Linked DNA regions of Homo sapiens. The protein of the gene in region 4 purifies or fractionates together with the protein of the main gene of each other region. This does not show direct contact. Each region holds a gene or a part of one and is shown on either strand. Other genes may lie near its edges. The genes, in order: ACSL4, FDXR, EFNB3 and TBC1D22A.

Region 1 (7,040 bases), on a different chromosome or scaffold from region 4:
ATAATAGTAATCTGCATACCTACTATCAAAATTGTAATTGTAAATTATAATATATAATATAGAATTGTACAGAGAAAAAGTAAAACTATACTGCCCTCCTCTAACACCACTCTCTTTTCCTCTAGGGATAATTACTCTTGATGTGTATCAATCAGATTGTTTTGTATTACCCATACACATGATAAGGGTTTATTTTTAGATAAGTGGAATTATGGTATACAACTGTTCTTTGACTCCCTCCCCCTCTCTTCCCCTGCTTAACAGCATACTTTGGAACTCCTATGTCAGTGTATATATATGTCTAACCAAGAGGCTTTTCTTCTTTTTTTATTTAATAACTCAATGGTATTCCACAGTATAACTTACCATTATTTAAATCATTCCCTACTGATGGATATTTAGGATACTGCCAAATTTTCACAGTTACAAACAGTTTCACTGCAGCGAAACCTTATACATAGTTTTATACACATGTAATATTTCCCTAGAATTGTTTTCTAATAAAACTATTGGGTCAAAATGTATGCACATTTAAAAATGAGATGATTTTGGTATTCTTCAGCAAAGAGTTATACATGTGAACTCTCATTAACAGTGTATGCAAATGCCTATTTGTTAAAAGTGGATATTAAGTTCTTGCCAATCTGTCTGGTGAAAAACGGTTTACATTTCCCTAATAACCAGAGTCAATTTGAACATCTTTTCTTTTTTATTCACCAGTACTTCTTTTCCTGGGAAATGCCCATGTATAATCTTCTGCCACTTTTTGCTTTTTGTAGTGGGTACCTTTCTCTTATTGATCTTTAGGAGCTCTTTATATATTATGGATATTATGCAGTAGAAACCCTTTTATCTAATGTGATTTAGAACAATTGGTTATGTAATTTAAAAGGTTAATTTCAGGTAAACGATCATAAAAATATGTATGGCAAACATTTCACCTTCCTTTCATCAGTGGTATATATATACTCATTCAACAAACTTTGTGTGTGTGTGGTTTTGGTTTATTTATTTTTGGGGGGCTTTTTTGTTTTTTTGTTTGTTTCTGAGACAGGGTTTTGCTCTGATGCCCAGGCTGGAATGCAGTGGAGTGACCTTGGATCGCTGCAACCTCTGCCTCCCGGGCACAAGCTATCCTCCTGCCACAGCCTCCCAAGTATCTGGGACTACAGTTGTGCATCACCATGCCTGGCTAATTTTTGTTTTTGTTTTTTTGAGACAAGGTCTCACTCTGTCACCCAGGGTGGAATGCAATGACGTGAGTGATCATAGTTCACTACAACCTCCACCTACTGGGCTCAAGCAATCCTCCCACCTCAGCTTCCCCAGTAGTTGGAACCATAGGCACATGGCACCATGCCCAACTAAATTTTTGTATTTTTTGGGCTAGGCGTGGTGGCTCACGCCTGTAGTCTCAGCACTTTGGGAAGCTGAGGCAGGCAGATCACTTGAGGTCAGGAGTTTGAGACCAGCCTGGCCAACATGGCGAAACCTCATCTCTACTAAAAATACAAAAATTAGCCGGGTGTGGTGGTGGGCACCTGTAATCCCAGCTACTCGGGTGGCTGAGGCAGAAGAATCGCTTGAATCTGTGAGACGGAGGTTGTAGTGAGCCGAGATCATGCCACTGCACTCCAGCCTGGGCGACAGAGCGAGATTCCGTCTCAATAATAATAATAATAAAAATTTTCTGTAGAGATGGGGTTTCACCATGTTGCCCAGGCTGGTCTCAAACTCCTGGCCTCAAGAGATCTGCCTGCCTTGGCCTTCCAAAGTGCTGGGATTACAGGCATGACGCACTGTACCTGACCTGGGGTTTTTTTTGTTTTTGTTTTGTTTTGTTTTTTTATTTAAAGACAGGATCTCACTCTGTCTCCCAGGTTGGAATGCAGTGGTGTGATCATGACTCACTGCAACCTTGAACTCCTGGCCTCAAGCAATCCTCCTGTCTCAGCCTCCTGAGTGACTGGGGACTACAGGTGTGTGCCACCACACCCAGCTATTTTTTTTTTTTTTTTTTGAGACAGGGTCTTGCTATGTTGCTCAGGCTGGTCTTGAACTGGCTTCAAGCAATCCTCCTGCTTTGGCCCCCTAAAATGTTGGGATTACAAGCATGAGCCACCATGCCAGCCTCAAACTTTCTATATGGGGCCAAGAGGCCAAGACCTTTTTCTCTAACTCCAGGCCCATTGATTTTACATTTGACAAGTAATGTGAGTATAAAACCCTTTTAGATGGCTGGTGCGGTGGCTCACACCTATAACCCCAGCACTCTGGGAGGCCAAGGCGGGCGGATCACGAGGTCAGGAGATCGAGACCATCCTGGCTAACACGGTGAAACCCTGTCTCTACTAAAAATACAAAAAAATTAGCCAGGTGTGGTGGAGGGCGCCTGTAGTCAGGAGAATGGCGTGAACCCGGGAGGTGGAGCTTACAGTGAGCCGAGATCACGCCACTGCACTCCAGCCTGGGCAAAAGAGCGAGACTCCATCTCAAAAAATAAAATAAAATAAAATAAAATAAAACTCTTTTAGATTTTTATATTTTTTCCACGTATCTTGTATAGTCATCTTACCCACATTTAAGCGGACAGTATTTTTTTTTGCAACTTGTTTTCATTAACTCTTCTCAAAACAATTTGTTTCATCATAATGAATCTAATGTAACCATCACCCAGCTTCAACAGTTATTCATATGTGCTGAATTGTGTTTCTTCCATACTACCCACAACCCACCTCCATCCCTCACCCCTTGTATAATGTTAAGCAAATCCCAGACATCATATTATTTCATTTGTAAATTTTCAGTAAAAAGAACTCCAATCTCCCCCACTCATATATTGTCAGGTTACAACATATTAAACAAATTACCTTTTAAAAACAAATACAAGCAGGCTTAGCACGGTGGCTCACGCCTGTAATCCCAGCATTCTGGGAGGCTGAGGCAAGTGGATCACCTGAGGTCAGGAGTTCAAGACCAGCCTGGCCAACATGGCAAAACCCCGTCTCTACTAAAAATACAAAAAAAATTAGCCAGGCATGGTGGTGGGCACCTATAATCCCAGCTACTCGGGAGGCTAAGGCAGGAGAATTGCTTGAACCCAGGAGGCAGAGGTTGCAGTGAGCCGAGATTGCACCATTGCACTCCAGCCTGGGCAACAAGAGCAAAACTCCATCTCAAAAACAAACAAACCAACCAACAAACAAAAAAACAAATACAACCAACATATACAGGTTTAGTAGTAAAAAAATTTACTGTACTGGTAGGTAAACAAGCACGCTGGAGTACTGGAGATCAACCAACTAATACCAAGTATTCAGTGTACACTGTATTTTACAAAGGAAATAAAAATTATTCAATGTGGTGAGTCAATTAAGTGGAGGTCAATTAAAGCTTCTAATGCATATGTAGAAGCTTTTTCATTTTTATTTATTTTATTTATTTATTTTTTGAGACAGGGTCTCGCTCTATCACCCAGGCCAGAGTGCAGTGGTGCAATCATAGCTCTCTGCAGCCTCGACCTCCCAGGCTCAAGGGATCCTCCCACTTCAGCCTCTGGAGTAGCAAAGACTACAGGCACATGCCACCATGCCTGGCTTTTTTTGTTGTTTTTTGTTGTTGTTGTTGTTGTTTTGTTTTTTTTGTTTTTTTTTTAGAGACAGGGTCTCACTATGTTGTCCAGGCTGGTCTCAAACTCCTGGGCTCAAGCAATCTTCCCACCTTGGCCTCCCAAAGTGCTGGGATTATAGGCGTGAGCTGCAGTGCCCGGCCATCACTTGTCTTTTTAACTGGGTTATGATGTCTTACACTTTCCAGAAGATTTTTTAAAATATATACTTAGATTTTTAAAATATATTCTTAAGTTATTTTTGTGTATGATGAGAGATGGAGACTTATTACTTTCTAAATACACAGCCACCTGTCTTTACTCAATTTCCATTTTCAACATTACACTTAGAACACTTAAAAGAACTAAAGTGTCAACTGCTTCGTTATAAAAAAGGAAGTTGTACAAACAAAATAATAAACCAACAGTCTAAGCTCAGTTTGATAGGCTCTTACTACTATGTACTTAAAGATCACATAGCAGTTTCAGGAGCAAAAACACTACCATGCCTGGCTCTCTTATTACCGCTACAGCTCACAACAGGGTCTCCAAAAGACATCATAGACTGCATAGAAGTCTATCTGCAGCTTACTGATTGCCACACATGTAAATTCACATTCACATTTAAATAACCCACACTTAACAACAAAATCAACCGTCTCAACTCTCTATGCATTCCTTATTGCTGCTCCTAGACCACAGTGCTTTGGAGACTTAGTAAAGAAAATGAATGCACTCTCCTGAATCACAATATCACCTGGAAATGTAACCAGAAGGTATAAAAAGTCAGGGTAGTTTGTTAAATTGTGTGTGTGTGTGTGTGTGTGTGTGTGTGTGTGTGTGTGTGTGTGTGTGTGTAATCAACAATTTATAAGGTTACCTTATCTCTGGGGTCAGCACTTTTTCTGTAAAGGTCCAGAGAGAAAATTGGCTTCACGGGACATAAGGGCTCTGTTTCAGCTCTGATGTTGTATTGTGAATGCGGCCAGAAAACACATAAATTAATGGATGTGGCTATATTCCAAGAGAAGTTTATTTACAAAAACCGGTGGTGGGCAGGATTTGGCCACAGGCAGTATTTTGCCAGCCCCTGCCTTATACCAATGTTTTATCTTTTTCAAATAACAATCTACTTCCCTCACTGCACACATATTTGAGTAAATATAGTAACACTGAAGGGACAAATAATTTCAGTACTGCCTTACAGAAATGAATATTCTCAAAATTAATCACTAACCTTTTCCTATAATTCCTTCTCATATGAGCACATACATTTTTCAAAATATAAAACTGTAAACATCACCTTGAACCTAATATTTATTTCAAAAGACAGTTACAATGAGTGTCATGTAGCTGCTATAAAAGGAAAAATGCAGTCTAGACAGTCAAATACAATGATCTTTTATTCATTATTCTCATAATCAACAGTGAGTAGAAAAGTCTGCTAAATACATGGTCATGAATCATAACTTCACTACTCAAAATGCAGAAGTAGACTTTCAAAGTACATTTAAATAAGAACACAAATTTGTTTTTTGGATTACTTACCAAAATCCTTGATGGAAAATGATACAGTTTTGCCAAAATATTTTTAATTTAGAAAGTGAAACCAAAAACCTCTTTAGCATATCATGCGTCTATTTAATTTTAAAATACAAATTTTAATGTTGCATTTGACAGCCTGGTGAGGTAGACATTATATTTTTAAGGCAGCCATTTTAATATAGTGAGAGCATGTGTGAATATGTATTAACATTCTAAGCCATTAAGGCCACTTGTTCACAGAATATATTTGAGCTCTAAAATTGTTGAAAGAGAAAATGCTCAAATAGCTTACAGAAATAATGGATGTTATACAGAACAGAAAGGAATCAAATTAAATAACAAAAGTTTGTAAGATTTCTTGACACCAAAAGCACAGTCCATAGAGGAAAAATTAATAAACTGGACCTCATCCAAATTAAAGCCTTTTGCTCTGTGAAATTCCCTGTGAAGAGGTTGGAAAGACAAGCTACAGACTGGGAGAACATATTTTCATACCACTACCTGACAAATGATTAGTATTAAGAATAAAAAGGCCAGGGGCGGTGGCTCACGCCTGTAATCCCAGCACTTTGGGAGGCCGAGGCGGGTGGATCATGAGGTCAGGAGATCGAGACCACCCTGGCTAACACGGTGAAACCCTGTCTCTACTAAAAATACAAAAAAAAAAAAAAATTAGCCAGGTGTGGTGGCGGGTGCCTGTAGTCCCAGATACTTGGGAGGCTGAGGCAGGAGAATGGCGTGAATCTGGGAGGCAGAGCTTGCAGTGAGATTGCACCACTGCACTCCAGCCTGGGCAACAGAGCGAGACTCCGTCTCAAAAAAATAATAAAAAACTCTTAAAACTCACCAGGTTAAAAAAAAAATCCAAATAGAAAATGGACAAAAGACATGAACTGATATTTCACTGAAGATACAGAGAATGGCAAATAAACACATGGAAAAATGATCAACATCATTGGCGATCAGAAAAATGCAAATTAAAACTAGGAGGATATATTACTACACACCTATGAGAATGGCTAAAATAAAAAATAGTAACAGCACCAAATGCTGTCAAGGATGAGGAGCATTCACACATTCCTGGTGGGAATGTAAAATGGTACAGCCACTCTGGAAAATGGTTTGGCAGTTCCTTAGAAAACTAAACATGCAAGTGCTATACCACCCAAGAAGTACACTCTCAGGCATTTCAGAAATTTATGTTCACACAAAATCCTGTGGACAACTGTTCATATGAGCTTTATTCAAAATAGGCAATAAATAAATAAATAAATAAGTAAAACAAACAAAAACCCTGGAAACATCAGATGCCCTTCAAGAGGTGACTGGTTAAACAAACTGCAGTAAATCCATATTATGGAATACTACTCAGCAATGGAAAGGAACAAGCCATTGATAAAAGGTATATTCCTTGCACTAATCTCCAAGGAATTATGCTGAGTGAAGTAAAGTCAGTCTCCAAAGGTTATATACTGTGTGATTCATTTATATAAGCATTTTTGAAATGACAAAATTATAGACATGAAAAACAGATCAGTGGTTGCCAGGAGTCAGGGATGAAGGGAGATGGCTACATCTATAAAAAGACAACAAAAAGGATCCTTGTGGTGATGCAATTGTTCTGTATCTTGACTGTGGTAGTGCTTATATAAATCTACACGTGATAACATTATGTAGAACTAAATACATACATGCAAATGACTGCATTAAAGGTGACGAAATCTGAGTAAGGTTGATGGATTGCATCGATTTCAATTTTGTAGTTGTGATGTTACACTATACTTATGCATGAGGCTATTATTGGGGGAAATTAGATAAAGCGTATTATTTCTTACAACTATATGTGAATCTACAACTATCTCAAAATAAAAAGTTAAAAGGGAAAGAA
Region 2 (7,520 bases), on a different chromosome or scaffold from region 4:
GTAGTCCCAGCTACTTGGCAGGCTGAGGCAGAAGAATCACCTGAACCCGGGAGGTGGAGGTTGCAGTGAGCCAAGATTGCACCATTGCATTCCAGCCTGGGTGACAGAGCGAGACTCCATCTCAAAAAAATAAAAAAATAAAAAATAAGACTCCCGTTCAAAAAAAAAAAAAAGAATAAATAACTTTGAATGTGACCTTGGCTAGTTCAAACAGTTTGTTCTGTGATGTTTAGAAGTGAACCTGGGGATCATCTACTGGGAGAGAGAAGAATTTGTAGGAGGGGGCTGGGGCTGGAGGGGGTACTGGGAACAGGGTCCGGAGGACGGATGACCTCAGAGAGGAATGGGAGGAGGGTGGGGTGCAGATAGAAGAGCCTGAAGTCAGGGCTGGGCAGGGCTGTGGAAGGATGGTCTGCAGCCTGGGAGTGAGGTGGGAATATAAGGGAACTACCAATGCCAGGCAGAGGAAGAGACCAAGGTGCTGGGGGACACCACTGAGATTCAGCCCACAGTGGGTAGTATTGAGAGAGGGCTGGGAGCTGCCCCAGCTGGGGGCTGGACTGGGAGGGTGCTAGGAAGTGCCCAGGTGGAGGCTGAGGGAGAGACAGAGAAGGAGGCCAGACCCATTAGTTGAAAACAGGGTCTCTCACCTTGGCACTATTGACTTTTTTTTTTATGGAGATGGAGTCTCGCTCTGTCGCCCAGGCTGGAGTGCAGTGGCATGATCTCAGCTCACTGCAACTTCTGCCTCCCAGGTTCAAGCGATTCTCCTGCTTCAGCCTCCCGAGTAGCTGGGACTACAGGAGCCTGCCACCATGCCTGGCTAATTTTTTGTATTTTAGTAGAGACGGAGTTTCACCATGTTGCCCAAGCTGGTCTCGAACTCCTGAGCCCAGGCAATCCACCCACCTTGGCCTCCCAAAGTGCTAGGATTACAGGTGTGAGCCACCATGCCCAGTCACTACTGACATTTTATCTGGCCAATTCTGTGTTGTTGGGGGCTGTCCTGTGCATTGTTGGATGTTTAGCAGCGTCACTGGCTTCTACCTACTAGATGCTGGGAGCTCAAGTTGTGACAATCAAAAATGTCTCCAGACATTGCTGAGTTGACCCAGTTGAGAACATGCAAGTCATTCTCTGAGCGTGTAATTGCCTTGTTTTTCAGTGAAGGCCTTGGATAGAGTGAAAGGCCTCCTGACCCTGCTGATAGGGAGACAAACTGCCGGCAAATGGGAGCCTGGGGGATGGGCAGAGGGGTCTGGCTACAGGCACAGGCATTCCCTGAGCCTTGTTCCGTTGGAGAGCCCCTCTGTGGTGTGGCCTTAGGCAGCTGCACAGAGGCCACTGGTTCTTTTATGTGCACTCTCCATTCATCTCCACCACACCTTCCTTTACCAAAGACCGCAGTTCCTTTAGACACCCTTTTCCATAGCTACAGACTCTCACTAGTTCTGAAACAGCTCCCTCCAGGCTTGCGGTGGTAGTGGTTTCCAGCTGTTGCTAGCCTGGGGTGCTTCTCCATTCCCTTCACCCTGCTCACACCTCTGTATACAAACTCCTTCATTAAACTGTCCTCAATCACGCCTTTTGAGTGTGCCATCTGTTTCTTGCTAGAAGGTTGACTGATAGAGTGGAGTTTTGGATCCAGGCAGCCCTCTTGGCACGAGGCAGGCTTGGCGGCTCCCCAGCCCACTGCTTTGCTATATGTTATTGCTGCTCCTTGGAAATGCATTAGCAGCTTAGAAATGGCCTTGAGATCTAGGGGTGTAATTAATCAAACTGCTAATTCTCCATTTGAGAAACGCAGTGGCAGAAAAGGCCCCAGTTGCACAGTCCTGGCTCATGATTAAAACCATCCAAATACATAACCAATGACTCATTGTTATTGATCTGGACCTGACTGGGGTATGGGCAGCAGCTGAAGGCACTGGTGCCAGATCTGGCTGTACCATGGGTATCATGGGAACAAGTCACTCGATTGCTTTGAGGCTCCATTTTCTGTTTCACTTAGGATGTGGGCTGGGAATTTCTGAGGCCTGAGAGGTGAGGGAGGTGACAGGAGTGAATGAAGTATATCCAGATCTCTGCAGAGACTTAAGGTCTAATCTACAGAGACATATGGGAGGTCATAATACATATGGATGATGATAATAATAGCTAATGTTTATCTAGCATTTATGGAAGTTGTCTTGACCTCATCATCTGATTTTAATGTCTACAACAAATTGCCACTATTCATATTTCCCCCAAATGTTACAGACAGTGAAAAAAAGTCCTGGAGAGATTAAATTTCTCAATGTCATATAGCTAGTAAGTGGAGGAAGAGGGATTCAGACCCAATGTTGTCTGACTCTAGAATCCATCCTCCACCACCAGATATACTGCCTCTAGATGGGGAGCCCTACAGAACTTTTTCGATTGTACGAACTTCCATTATGTGCTAGCCAGTGTGTGAAGCCCTGGGGGTATAAGAGCTGAGACTGGGTCCCCATCCTCATGGAGCTTATAATGTAGTGCAGGGGTGGTCAAACTCTGTAAAGGACCAGATAGTAAATATCTGGGGCTTTGCGAACCATATGATCTCTGTTACAACTACTCAATTGTGCCATCAAAGCACAAATATAGCCATAGACAATATGTAAAGAAGTAAGCATGGATGTCTTCCAATAAAGTTTTATTCAAACTGAAGTCTGAATTTCATGTAATTTTTACGTGTCACAAAATGTTGTTTTTTACCATTAAAAATATAAAAACAAGCTGGGTGTGGTGGCTCACTCCTGTAATCCTGGCACTTTGGAAGGCCGAGGTGGGAGGATCGCTTTGAGTTCAGGAGTTCGAGACCAGCCTGGGTGACATGGCAAAACCCCATCTCCACAAAAAATGCAAAAATGAACCAGGCGTGGTGGCAGGCACCTGTGGTCCCAGCTACTCCGGAGGCTGAGGCCTGAGGCTCGCTTGAGCCAAGCCAGGAAGCAGAGGTTGCAGTGAGCACCACTGCACTCCAGCCTGGGTGACAGAGCAGGACCCTGTCTCAAAAAACAAAATCAAAACCAAAAACAAAAACCCCAAAACCTCCAAAAAAACAAAAACAGTAAAAGCCATTCTTGTTGGTCATCCAAAACATGCTGGTGGACAGTATTTGGCCTGCAAGCTATAGTTTGCCTACTCCTGGTCTAGTGGGACAGGCATAAAACACAGTGACCTATTAGAAAGCAGACAGCATTTACTTACCAGTGGGAGGGAGGGGAAGTGACCAGTAAGGGCACAGAGGACTCCTGGGATACTGGCCATGTTTTATTTCTTGATCTGGGTGGTGGTTATATGGTTACACCTTGTGATATATTGTCAAGTTGTACACTCATGATTTGTGCACTTTTCTGTATGTTATTATTGAATTTAAAATCTCATTAAAAACGACAACCAGTGTAGTAAGTCATGATGGGATAAGGTCAGATGCTGTGGAATGAGAGGCCTTTAACTCCTTGGAACTTGGGAGGGGACGGGTCAGAGAAAAGGCTTCTCCAAGGAAGTAATATTTGACAAGAGGGCCCATGGGGAAAAGGAAGAGGGGTTAGGCTTATTGGGTCAGCTGTGACTACGGATCCTGTCCTTATTTTTAAAAACATTTTGATCATAGACTTTTTGCATTACTTTTGACCTTTTAAAACGTTGCAGTATTATATTTATCTTGATTACTGAGTGTTTTGGAGCCCCCTTAAATTCTGAACCCGAGGGGAGTACCTCAACTCTGGTCCCGGCTCGGCTGCACGGGGGTCGGACGCTCTGTCCTTAGTACCATACGTAAGCCACTGCCCCGCCCCGCTTTTCTTCACCTATGTAATGGGAAAGGAGGTGAGGTGGGACGAGCTTTCCAGGGTTTAATATTCTCCCTGGCCCGGCAAAGACGGGGATTTGAGGGGTTACATCGGCACAACACCCGGGGTCGAAGAAGGAGGCTGCTGGGCTCCGGGAAGGAGCTCCCTCGCCCCAGACTTCCGCACTCTGGTTATTTCCCAACGGCGGGAAGGCTCGCTTGGAGCCGGACTCGTGATTGGCTAGGACGAAGTCACGTGGGAGGATTCGCAATCAAATGGCAAGGGCGTCTGCGTCATCAGTGAGCGACGAGAGCCTCCCGAGAGGGGCGCGGCTAAGTAAAATAAGCTCCTTTCTTAGTGGCTGTTTCCTTGGGGAGGGACTGAAACAGCGATGGGGATTCGCTCTCTTCCAACCCTAGGCTTCCGGGATTTGGAGGGAAGGTGAGGCCTGGGGAGAAATGTATTAAATCGCGTATACCCCGGATGCTCCGAGGGGCGGGGCTTCGACGGTGGGGCGTAGTTAAGGGCGGGTCTCTCTTTTGGGGGCGGGATTCTCTCGGGAGTCGGGGTGGAGCCGCAAGGCTCCGCTTTCCCGGAGCGCAGGGGGCGGGGTTTGGGGCGGGGCCTCGCTTGTGGGCGGGCCCGGGCAGGAGCGGGCTTGCCCTGCGGAGCAGTAGCTAGGAACAGATCCACTTGCAGGTTGCTGCTCCCAGCCATGGCTTCGCGCTGCTGGCGCTGGTGGGGCTGGTCGGCGTGGCCTCGGACCCGGCTGCCTCCCGCCGGGAGCACCCCGAGTAGGAGCAGGGCGCCTTTGGGGCTGGATGGGAGCGCGGGGAGGCCTGCGAGCGCTGAGTAGGGGTCGGAGCAGAGCTGGGGCAGGGCTGGAGAAGGGTGAGACTGAAGGGGTGTCTTCCTGCTGGCGAGATCCCGGTGGTGTACGGGGGTGGGCGGAGATCTGTGCGTGAGATGTGAGGCTTCTAGGGTTAGAGACGGAGGTCAACAAAGGTGAAAAGGAGAGACTTTGAGATCTACAGGTGTGAGACGGGGTGAATGGAGGATGATACGGAGGTCTGTGGGGCGAGAGGAAAGTCTGAGTCGAAACAGGGATCTGTAGGAATAAGACGGGTCTATATGGGCAATATAGCGTTTTGTGGAGAGAGAGAGGGGTTAGAGGAGGGACACCGTGGGGAGACCCACGGGGGCGAGATTGGGATGATATGGAGGCCGTTGGAAGGATGTGGGATTCTAGCCGATTGGATAGGGAATGAAGTGTTGTTGGGCAGGCCATTGGCAGTGGTGTAGTAGGTTCATGGGTGAGATGTGGGCTCTGGATGAACCCACAGCCTTTGGGGGTTCAGATGAAGTAAGAGACCCTGCAAATGCCAAAGCCTTGAGGAACAAGAGAAGGAGGATGCAGGTGAGGGTGAAGCTTGGGAAGTTCCAGCTTCTGTTGGATATTCAGGTTGGTTTGGGACTGGGGAGAGAAGTTAATTTTGACCTTTTCCCTCTCCTCTGCCTGGCCCCAGGCTTCTGCCACCATTTCTCCACACAGGAGAAGACCCCCCAGATCTGTGTGGTGGGCAGTGGCCCAGCTGGCTTCTACACGGCCCAACACCTGCTAAAGGTAAGCCACTTACTCATAGTCCATCATTCACCTGCTGCTCCAGTCCTAAGGGCAAGCCTCACCCGCTTTGGGTTTTAAGAGCACTCCTGGTTGCCTTATGGGGAAGGGGCTCCCAGCCATCTGGCCTGGACACTTCCCACTTGCTTCCTCACCTACACCTGAGGCTCCCCTCCCCTCCCGTCCTCAGTGTGACAGGGGTGTAAAACGCACATTGGTGGTGAGTGGTCAGTGGCAGGTGGTCAGCTTTGCCTCCCTGGCCAAGCACTCCAGGGGGCTTATGTAGACCTGCAAAATGACTTTGTCCTCCTTCATCTTCCCTCCTCTCTCGTCTATCTTCACTCTATCCCAAACATCCTACATCTCGAGGCTACCCACCTCCTCCGCTTTCTGTAACTTTACCTGCCTTGCCATGCCCTCCTCACCCATAGCTCCAGTCCTCCGTGCCATTCTGTTCTTTCAGCCTGCCCTCTGCCCCTCCCCCTTCCCCTGTGAAGGCCAGGATCTCAAGGCTTTCAGTGTCTGCCTCGGCAGGAAGGGCCCCAAGCCAAGGCTACAGGTTCTACTTGAGACTCCACATCAGACTTTGGGACAGAGTAGAGAGGGGATACCCAGGTTAACTGAGACGTGAGACAGTTGCCTAGCTTTGGAGAGGCTTGGAGTGTCCGTGGAGAGACAAGAGAAAGGATGAATATCTTAATTATACACACACACACAGATGCTTGAAATGTAGGGTGACCAACTGGCCTGGACTGCCCAGGACAAGGGGCTTCAGCGCTAAGCTGGAAGTTCTTGGGAAACTGGGATGAGTTGATCACTCTGCTGAAAAGTGACCCGTGCATGCTTCCCAGGCAACACGGGTGAAAGAGCTAATTACAATAATGTGGGCAGCGTGAGCCGAGGCAGGTGGGGTCAATCAGAAACTGTTTCCTGGGCCGGAAGCCCAGGTGGCTCATGTCTGTAATCCCAGCACTTTGGGAGGCCAAGGCAGGTGGATCACTTGAAGTCAGGAGTTTGAGACCAGCCTGGCCAACGTGGTGAAACCCCATCTCTACTAAAAATAGAAAAATCAGCCACGTGTGGTGGCACAGGTCTGTAGTCCCAGGTACTTGGGAGGCTGAGTCGGGAGGATCGCTTGAACCCAGGAGGTGGAGGTAGCACTGAGCCAAGATCAAATCACTGTACTCCAGCCTGGGCGACAGAGTGAGACCCTGTCTCAAAAAAAAAAAAAAAAAAAAAAAGAGAGACAGTGCATTTGAGCTGCCTTGAAGCAGACCAAGGGCTTTGGTGAGGGCCTCCCACATGTGGGGAGTCATCCTGGAATGCAAGGCCTTGGGCACGCTGCCATGTGGGAGGGAGGACAGCCTGGGCTCTGGGATGGAGATCAGGGAGCACATGGGGGCTGGAGAGGCCCTGAAGGGCTTTGTATAAGGGACAGTTTTTTTTTAGCTGATCCTGACATTTTGGAAGGGAGGAGAGTAAGCTTTCCAGGCAGTGTTCTTTTTTTTTTTTTTTTTTTTTTGAGATGGAGTCTGGCTCTGTCGCCCAGGCTGGAGTGCAGTGGCACAGTCTCAGCTCACTTCAACCTCCATCTCCCAAGTTCAAGCGATTCTCCTGCCTCAGCCTCCTGAGTAACTGGGATTACAGGCGCACTCCACCACATGCAGCTAATTTTTGTATTTTTGGTTGAGACAGGGTTTCACCATGTTGATCAGGCTGGTTTTGAACTCCTGACCTCAAGTGATCTGCCCACCTCGGCCTCCCAAAGTCCTGGGATTACAGGCGTGAGCCCCCGCGCCCGGCCAGGCAGTGTTCTTAGCACGACTGTATTCAGCTGGCAGACACGTGCACATGCTTTCCTTGTGGAATGGGATGGGGAGGGGCTCAGGCCAGGTACAATCCTTGTTCTGATCCTTGGGCTGATCTTTGCCCACAGGGAGCTCCAAGCTACTGGCTGTGCTCCTAAGACAGGACCACATGCAGCACGTTTGGGACAGTGGCCCTTAGCTTGAGTCAGGCACTGAGCACAGCATCTCGTAGCATCCTCATGACAACCTGCAAAGCAGGTGTCGTGCCTCTTGCTT
Region 3 (3,711 bases), on a different chromosome or scaffold from region 4:
GGGGACTGGGCACCTGGGCTTTTTGGGGGAGAAGAGCCTCGGTTATGGGTATACAGGGAGCCAGGGCACACGCAGCTTGATGCCTGGGTCCCTCCCTGAGTCCTTCCTACTTCCTTCTGATCAGCCACATCCCTTCTCCCCATGAGTCCCCAACAGCAAAACTTCTCAAGTGCCTTGGGTAGGGATGGTAGGGAATAGACTTTAACATGTGAACATGTTTTTACCACTTTGATCCTAATTGCGTCTTACCCTGTCTCTGGTGCTTTGGCTTAGCAAGACACTCAGACTGTCCCCATGGATGAATTGGCGACCCCACTCCTGCCTGCATTACTCTCTCCCTCCCCTAGAGGTGACACCTTCCTCTGCCTTCTCGCCCAGCCCATTTTCGCCTCCCCAAGCACTGCCAACCTCACCACTCCAAACTAGCCCTATCCCTACCCACCCCCCTTGGTTGGTTTCATGCAATCCAACCCTCAGCTGAAAGCCATTCTAACCAAGCCTTTGTCCCAATTCAAGTCCAGTCATTCTCCAGCCTTCTTGTCAACTTTTGAAGTTTTTTATTTTTATTTTTTTTGGTTTTTGTTGTTCAAATTTCCCTTTTACAGTAAAACTACTGAGGTGACGGCATACCCCGCCACCATGGCAATATCAACTTCCTGTTCCCCAGAAGGAGCGATTAGAAAAATCAGGAAGGAGCTGGGAACTACAGCACCAGAGAGGTGAACTTGACCTCTGGTGGACAAAGCAACCATCTTGGCTGGTGATTGAGGTGGCCAACCTGGTGCCCAACAACAGCTTTGATCTAATAAAACTGAGCTGGGAGGAAACTGAGGCAACACCCAATTGCACACTAGAGGGCAGGAAGAGGTATCAGCTGGTCACTATGGAAACAGTGGCCTTTGCTAAGTACCACTGTCAGCTAGACCAGCCAGTAGGCCACCATTTTGGTCACTAAGAAGGGAACTGTGTTGAGTCTGAAAGGAGTCAGAAATGTAGGATGGAATGAACAAGACAGCCATCTGGGTTACTCGGGAGAGCACATGGGTTCTTGGGGTAGTCCTGTTGATTAACAGAGATTATACTGGGATATGGAAAGGAAAGAACAAGACAAATTAGGCCTGCCACAGCACATGGCAGTCATCTTAGCTGTCCTAAAATCAGCACAGAGCACAAGGGAAGGGAGATCTTGGGAAGTGCCACTGAAGACTGGGAAAAGTCCTTCTCGGTCCACCTCTAACCTCTTACAGTCAGTAAGTTCCAGCTTCCTCCTGAAAGGAAGTTCTTCCCGCCCTTCTTCTCCACAGAATAAGAACCATCCACCTCCCACCTCCTGATCCCCCAGACTAAGCCACTTGGAGTTCCAGCCAGACCACTTCCTGTTTCAGAAGTGCTACTTCCTGTCCTGGATGAAGGCACTTCCAGTTCCTGCTGCACTGCTTCTGCTACTTCCCAGGCCATTTCTGTCCGGGCCTGGTCACCTCTTGTCTGGAGCAAGTCACTTCCGGTCCCAAGTGGCCCATTCAGCATCAGACCAAGTCCATACATGTCCCGACCGGTTCATATCTTGCTATTGGCCACTGGACAAAACGGGACACTTCTTCTCATGGTAGCTGTCATGACCCAACCACCCCAAATGGCTGGAGTAAGTATGTAGAGGCCTGGGCCAGGCCAGAGAATGGAGCCCTGCTGCCCATGGCCTGAGCTGGGGTGGAGTGTCAGAGCCTTCCCCATAAGGCCCCCATTTTTGGCAGACTGAGGGGAGTGGTTGGTATGAGAGGTCAGAAGGGGGGCTGAAAGCTAAGGGGAGAAATGCTTTGATGCCCCCACCCAGGAGATGGGAGAGGCACAGGATAAGAAGCCAAGAGGGTGAAAGGAGATGTGGGGAGGAGGATGCTAGGGAAGAAGAACAGACCTAGAGACGGAAGAGAGGGAAAGAATAAGAGATAGAGAAGAGAAAACCAGTGAGAGGCAGAAAGAAGGCGGTGCCAACCAAAAGGTGGGCTGTTCCCGCCCCTAGCTCTGGGTGGGTGAGGGGGACAAGGATGCCTGGGTCATGGTCAGAGAGGAGGCTGAGCCTGTGCCCCTCCCCAAGGAAAAAGGATCCAGGGACACTGAGACAGAGGGGGGCACCCATGGCCAAACGGGAGGGCAGGAAGTGGGGCAGTGGGAATCCTAAGGAATCCTAAAAGTGGAGACGAGGACAGCAGCCGGGAGGAGTGAAGGGGCTGGGGGGGCACAGGGGGCCGAGATGTTAGAGGTGTCCCTCAAACCAGGAATTAAACTGGAGGAGCACCCCAAGAAGGGCTGGATTCAGGATAGCCACGTGAGAGGAGCCCTCATACCTTGTAGTAGATGTTTGGAGGGCTCTGGGGGGGCCCATCCTGCACGATATACACAGGATGCCCATAGTCACCACTCACCTTCTCATAGTGGGGGCAGAAGGGGGGATCTGCAGCCCCGCCACCCCGCAGAGCTATCCCTAGCTCCCCAGGCTCAGCCTCCCGAGGTCCCATCCCACCTCCACCCCCCAGGCCCAGAGACCCTCCCCTCCCGAAGGAGCCAGGACCAGGGTGGCGACTCTCCGAAGGCTTGGCCCGCCGTCTCCGCCAACACATGGCACCCCCAGCCCCTGCCACGCCCAGCAAGAGCAGCGCCAGCCCCCCTGCTGCCCCAGCCACTGCAGGCATGCTGGGAGGGGGCAGGGGGCCTTCAGCACCCCGGGAGGTTGCATTGCTGGTGGGGTCACCTGGCAGGGAAGGGGTGAAGGAGGAAAGAGGGGGAGGGACTGAAGGAGCCACCTGGGCACCTGGACACCCAACCCTGGGGGTCCCCATGGGCTTCCCTTGTAGCGCCCAGGCCCCTTGGGGACCCCATCTCTCCTCCCCCTCCGAACTCTGCTCAGAATCCAGGTGTCCAGCCCTTCAGCTTCCTGCCACGGAGTCCTCCCCACTTCTCTGACAGCACTGATTGAAGCACTGACTTGGCTAATTAGTTCTAATTGAGTCTTTTCCTCATTTGGTTTCCATTCCCCTCCCACCCTCCCATCCTCTCTTCTCCTCTTTCCTGTATCACCGCCCCCAAAACTGAAGAGGGAGGGAGGGTGACGGCAGGGCAGCTGGGGTCTGAGAGCAGAGGAAGCTGGGGAAGGCAGGGGCCTAGCCCCTGGTTCCTACCTGGCAGGTTCTCCTTCCCAGGCTCCAGGCTGTGGGCTGCCCCTCGGTCTCTTTCCATGGGCATTTCAGACACAGGTTTTCGGGGGACAGCCCCTCCTCGGGGACCTGGAGATGAGGAAGACCCAGAGAGGGGCTGAGACAACTGCCCCAACCATGATCGTACTGCCCCAACGTCCCTTCGTGCCCAGGAGGTGTCCCCCAGCCCCACTCACTTTGTCCCACTCGGAGAAGCACCTTCATGCCTCTGGTTAGGCACACACCTCCCTGCAGGCTCTCCAGGCCCTCCCGGGTCCCATCCGATGTGGCTGGGAGAGAAAAGCCAGAGGAAGAGGTTGGCACTCCAGAATCTAGCCCTGATTCTGGCCCCACACCCTGGTGTGAACACTGCCTGAGGGCACTGGGATCTCCCTCTTGGCTGCAGGGGTCCCCCTCCCTCTCTGCTCAGTATCAGGAGCCCCCCACTCAATCGTGCCCTCTGCCCAGCAGTACCAATGATGTAGTAATCGTGGTGCGAGCGGAACTCGTGGCCCCAGAGATT
Region 4 (4,584 bases):
TGGCGCACCTGGAAAGCTGCCCTGAGAAACTGAGGCCCTTTGAAGGGCCTTGCTTCAGTAACACAGGGCAAGGAGGGTGTTTCAGTGTGTGGGTGAGGGTGAGGCAAGTGTATCCCAGGAGAGGCGGGGGGGACCCCAGACCCTGGTGCCTACCCCGGAACAGCCCTTTTCAAAGCAGGTGCTTGACAGATGTGGCCCAAGGGGAGGTCCCTTGTTCAGGAGCCTGACAGGGGCCAGCCTGGACCCCACACTCCCGTGTTCCAGCTAGTGCAGAGCCGGGCTTCGGGGGTCAGACTGGTTTCTGAGTCTTGCCCCGCCCGGGCAAGTGGCATCCCTGCACCACCTGAGCAGCTGCAGCCCCATCTCCCTGAGAGGTCCTGCGGGGGGCAGCGAGATCACGGGTGCTGCCGGGCCCACGCTGGTGCGCCGCAATGGCCCTGAGCTCAGACCCTCGGCAGGGCTGGGCCAGGGTGCCCCTGTCCTCGATGGGCAAGTCCTCGAATCACAGGCCAAGGCCGCGGCTTTGTCACTGATCTTTATTCCGTGTTTTTAGCGCACCACATCCAGACAGCACACCCCGAACATTCCAGATGGATCTGCTCAGACTTAAGGCCCGCGGCCAACACCTCTCACATTCAGTCTTGGCGTTTACATACATGAGGAAATGCACACAGGGCTGAACTCCGTGGAGCTTCCTGTTTAAAACATCAACCACCTCGAGAAGCAGGTCAGTTGTGTCCGCAGCCTTCTGGCCACACGGCATGATCTGAGCTGGAGAAGGGGATCCTCCCAGGGCTGATCTCGGCAAAGCGACATGGGGCTTCCTGCACACGGCCGAGGGGCGGCTCTTCTTGTGACGGAATCCCCTCCCCATCTAGAAAAGGAGGCGGCAGGAGGAGGAGGCATGGCTGGTCTGAGGAACCCTTGACCCTGGGGTGGGGACACGGAAGGCAGGGGTAAGGCGTGCCCGCATCTGATGTGAAGCAAGCCCATCCCTTTGCTGGTTTGGGAGCATCTGACGTTTGCACAGCATTTTGTGCTAATTTCCATGCTGTGTGTAATGACCCTGGATTTTTAAAACAGAAGCAGAAACACACACATCACTTATGCCTGTATGTCCCACAGTCTCTGGCAGTGTCCTAGGGCCTGGGAGAGGACACGGCTGCTCCTGAGGGACAGAGGAGAGTCTGGGAAGTCAGTCACCAGTGGGTCGCTGAGGACGTGAGCCTGTCCTGGGCTCAGGGATCAGACAGACTGTGGCTGTGGCCCTGCCCGCATTCCAGGGGTCATGCAGCCTGTGACACACCGAGGGAACGCTGGGAAGCCAGTCCCAAGGCCCCTGGAGCCAAGGACACAGCCCTAGCAGGGCGCTGGGCAGGGACCAGCTCTGGGCCCTTCCGCACTTAGAGCCCCAAGGAACCAGTCCACAGCGGGAACCAGTCCAGGGCAGAACCAGTATACAGCGGGAACTGGTCCACGGCGGGAACCAGTCCACGGCAGAACCGGTCCAGGGCAGGAGTGGTCCAGGGCAGGAGTGGTCCATGGCGGAACCGGTCCATGGCGGAACCGGTCCACGGAGGAACCGGTCCATGGAGGAACCGGTCCATGATGGAACCAGTCACACCTCCCCTACACCTGGCAGACCTGGACAAGGACAGCAAGTCCCAGGAAGTCTCCAAAAGCTCATTCCGCTTCCAGGCTGCGGTGAGAAGAGCACTGTGGTTCAGGGCTTTGATGACAGGGACGCGACCCCCTGCCCGTCTGCCAGCCCAACATGGCCCGACAGCCTGGGTGGGCCTCCAGGGGCTCTGGCTGAGGCCGGCGCCTACCTGCGTGGCGGGGCCACTTGGCCCTGGACCTCAGGGAGGTGGGGGTTTCTCTCTTGTAAAAGAGGTTCAAGGTGGAAAGTAAGGCGATGGCGAGGCCTCCCTCTGCTCCCAGCCTTTGGTCCCACGGCCTCCCAGGCACTCGGCGGGCTCACGGCTTGGACTCCAGCCTTCAGCTTCCCAGCCACGTTTAAACCAAGCAAGCAGGAAAACACACGGAGGGAAAGGGCCAGCAGCAGTGAAATACAGCTGTGAGGGGACCTCGCGGCACAGAGACCCCGGGTCAGCGCAACGTCTCGGTCTAGATTTTGTCTACATTTTATTCTTTCACTCAACAGAATAGAAGTTTTGCATTTCAGAGTAGGTATGAGATGGCCACTACCTCGTTCCGGCCCTGGCACCCAGACAGCAGGACTCCAAAGAGGGTCGGCCTCCTAGGCTGCCCCGGACTAGGGGCAGCACGAGGCAGTCATTTGGCAAGGACATTGCAGGGAGAGGGAGAGGGGACCCCTGACCTGCCTCTGGCCGCCGAACCCGGGGCCCTCCCCTGGCTCTCTTTGGTATCTCAGAAAACAAAGGCTGTCCCTGTCTTTGTCAGCCCTAGACCAGGTCTGTGGCCCATCTTCACCAGCTCCCCTGGAGGGTGGGGCCACCTCACAAGGCCTTTTAGCAGCCCGGGACCAGCTCACAGGGGCCTACCACCAGCCAGGCAGGTGGGGCGCGCCACCCGGGACAGTGAGGCCAGCTGCGGGTGGGCCTGGGCTCATTTCTTGTAGTGATTGGGGGCGTCGGCAAAAGCAAACTTGAGGCGGTAGGCCTCGGCCAGCAACAGGCTGATGTCCTCATCATCCCAGTGGGCTGTGGGCAGGTTCTGGAGGAAGAGCAGCAGCTCCTGGGGAGAAAGAGACAAGCCCAGGTCAGAGGAGGTGACCCACGGTGGAGGGCGGGTGACCCCAGAAAACTGGAGGGAAAGATACAAGCCCAGGTCAGAGGAGGTGACCCACGGTGCAGGGCGGGTGATCCAGGAAAACTGGAGAGAAAGACACAAGCCCAGGTCAGAGGAGGTGACCCACAGTGGAGGGTGGGTGACCCAGGAAAACTTGCCCAGCCGGCAGCTGCTCCCTGCTCAACCCCAGAAGGGCCCCAGGCCTCGCCCCACGGCCACCGCCCCATCCCAGCAGCCAGGCAGGAGGCCCACTGCGCAGCTCCAAGTCCGGCATCTGAGATGTCGTGGCAGGGGCCGCCCAGAGCTTCATTTAACTGAATCCCCTGCCCCTCAGGGGGAGACCCAGCTCTCGGGGCCCTGCTGCAGCTTTGCAGCCTCCGCCCAGGAGCTTCCCACTCCCACAAAGCCTGTATCAGCCCAGGAAGTACCGCAGCACCCCTGGAACTGCCACTAAGCACAGATTTCTGTGCACCAGGAGACCCCTCCGGGCACCAGCACCATCAGCAGATGAAGCCCACACGAGGGGATCACAGAACGGAGCCGGCTCAGGCCCACCCCGGGAGCCCAGGAGCACAGCAAAGCGCCAACTGGCCCCTCCTGCATGACCACCTCACACCAGTGGGTTGGGGTGCAGGGCTCCACCAAACCCAGCTTCAGGTCTAGGTCCAACCTGGTGCCCTGGAACAATGACTCCACCCCGAGGCCCAGCTTCCTCCTCTGCAAAATGGGGCCACCATTTATTTATTTATTGCTTTCTAATGTGCTTATTTGCCTTAGACTGAGATTTAAAAATTAATTCCAGTTACAACCAAAGAAGGCCTTTCTGTGGAAGTGACATTTGATCAGACTCTTAAAATTCAGGTAGGATTCTCATAGGTAAAGATAGGAGGTAAAAGGTTTTACATAAAGGTGAATGACATGCATGTAAGTAGGAAAATAGGGAACTATAGGGAATAAGCAACAATTATAAGTCGTTCAGTGTGGATAAAATCATCTTACATGTGTATTTTTAAAATCTCGCCTCCTGTACCCTTCATTCTCCCATTCTACTTCCCAGTCACAGCATTTATTGCATTGAATTCACATAGTACAAATTTTTATTTACTGTAGTAAATTACTGTCAGGGCTGCTGGACAGACTGGGAAAACACACATACGGCCAGCAGTACAGCCAGCACTGGGTGGGCACACAGTGGGCTCCATGGGCATGCTAGGTAGACACACCAGGCTCACTGAGCGGGCACACTGGGTGGACACACAAGGCTCACTGGGCATGCTGGGTGGGAACACCGGGCGGGCACACCGGACTCACTGGGCTCACTGGGCACTCTGGGTGAGCACACAGCTCACTGGGAGTGCTGGGTAGGCTCACTGGGAGTGCTGGGTAGGCTCACTGGGAGTGCTGGGTAGGCTCACTGGGAGTGCTGGGTAGGCACACTGGGCTCACCGGGCGCACTGGGCAGGTGCGTTGGGCTTACTGGGAGTGCTGGGTGGGCTCCTCTGGCCTGCAGCTGGGCCGTGTCTCAGATGGGCTATGGGGGCACTGAGTCCCACCCCCAAAAGACACATGGGCGACTGTCTCCAGAGCTCATGGTCTGGAGGCCGGGATGCGGACACTGAGGAGATGGAGACTGACCTACGTCCACTGAGGCCACAACGGGGAAGGAAAAGCACAGGTCCTCGGGGGACCCCCCACGACCACCGCCTGACAGCCCCGCCCTCCCACATGACCACGCCCACATCCACAGCTGCTGGCAGCCCACCAAGGGCAGGGCAGGTCTCCGGGGACCCCAACACACAGAGGGCTTGGCAG

Evidence for each region.
Region 1: the proteins of TBC1D22A (region 4) and ACSL4 purify together in Homo sapiens (affinity purification with mass spectrometry; 3 studies listed by BioGRID and IntAct, with this or other methods). This does not show direct contact.
Region 2: the proteins of TBC1D22A (region 4) and FDXR purify together in Homo sapiens (affinity purification with mass spectrometry; 3 studies listed by BioGRID and IntAct, with this or other methods). This does not show direct contact.
Region 3: the proteins of TBC1D22A (region 4) and EFNB3 purify together in Homo sapiens (affinity purification with mass spectrometry; 3 studies listed by BioGRID and IntAct, with this or other methods). This does not show direct contact.

What each region holds. Positions count from the first base shown.
Region 1 is NC_000023.11:109,723,246-109,730,285, forward strand, and holds part of ACSL4 (long-chain-fatty-acid--CoA ligase 4), read right to left. Parts: intron 1-7,040. UniProt on the Homo sapiens protein: Catalyzes the conversion of long-chain fatty acids to their active form acyl-CoA for both synthesis of cellular lipids, and degradation via beta-oxidation. Preferentially activates arachidonate and eicosapentaenoate as substrates.
Region 2 is NC_000017.11:74,869,955-74,877,474, reverse strand, and holds the start of FDXR (NADPH:adrenodoxin oxidoreductase, mitochondrial isoform 1 precursor), read left to right. Parts: upstream 1-4,480; 5' UTR 4,481-4,530; coding exon 4,531-4,609; exon of another isoform or gene 4,610-4,706; intron 4,707-5,158; coding exon of another isoform or gene 5,159-5,277; intron 5,278-5,341; coding exon 5,342-5,439; intron 5,440-7,520. UniProt on the Homo sapiens protein: Serves as the first electron transfer protein in all the mitochondrial P450 systems including cholesterol side chain cleavage in all steroidogenic tissues, steroid 11-beta hydroxylation in the adrenal cortex, 25-OH-vitamin D3-24 hydroxylation in the kidney, and sterol C-27 hydroxylation in the liver.
Region 3 is NC_000017.11:7,708,202-7,711,912, reverse strand, and holds the end of EFNB3 (ephrin-B3 precursor), read right to left. Parts: coding exon 3,663-3,711; intron 3,479-3,662; coding exon 3,386-3,478; intron 3,279-3,385; coding exon 3,174-3,278; intron 2,747-3,173; coding exon 2,337-2,746; 3' UTR 541-2,336; downstream 1-540. UniProt on the Homo sapiens protein: Cell surface transmembrane ligand for Eph receptors, a family of receptor tyrosine kinases which are crucial for migration, repulsion and adhesion during neuronal, vascular and epithelial development.
Region 4 is NC_000022.11:47,171,632-47,176,215, reverse strand, and holds the end of TBC1D22A (TBC1 domain family member 22A), read right to left. Parts: intron 2,719-4,584; coding exon 2,590-2,718; 3' UTR 523-2,589; downstream 1-522. UniProt on the Homo sapiens protein: May act as a GTPase-activating protein for Rab family protein(s).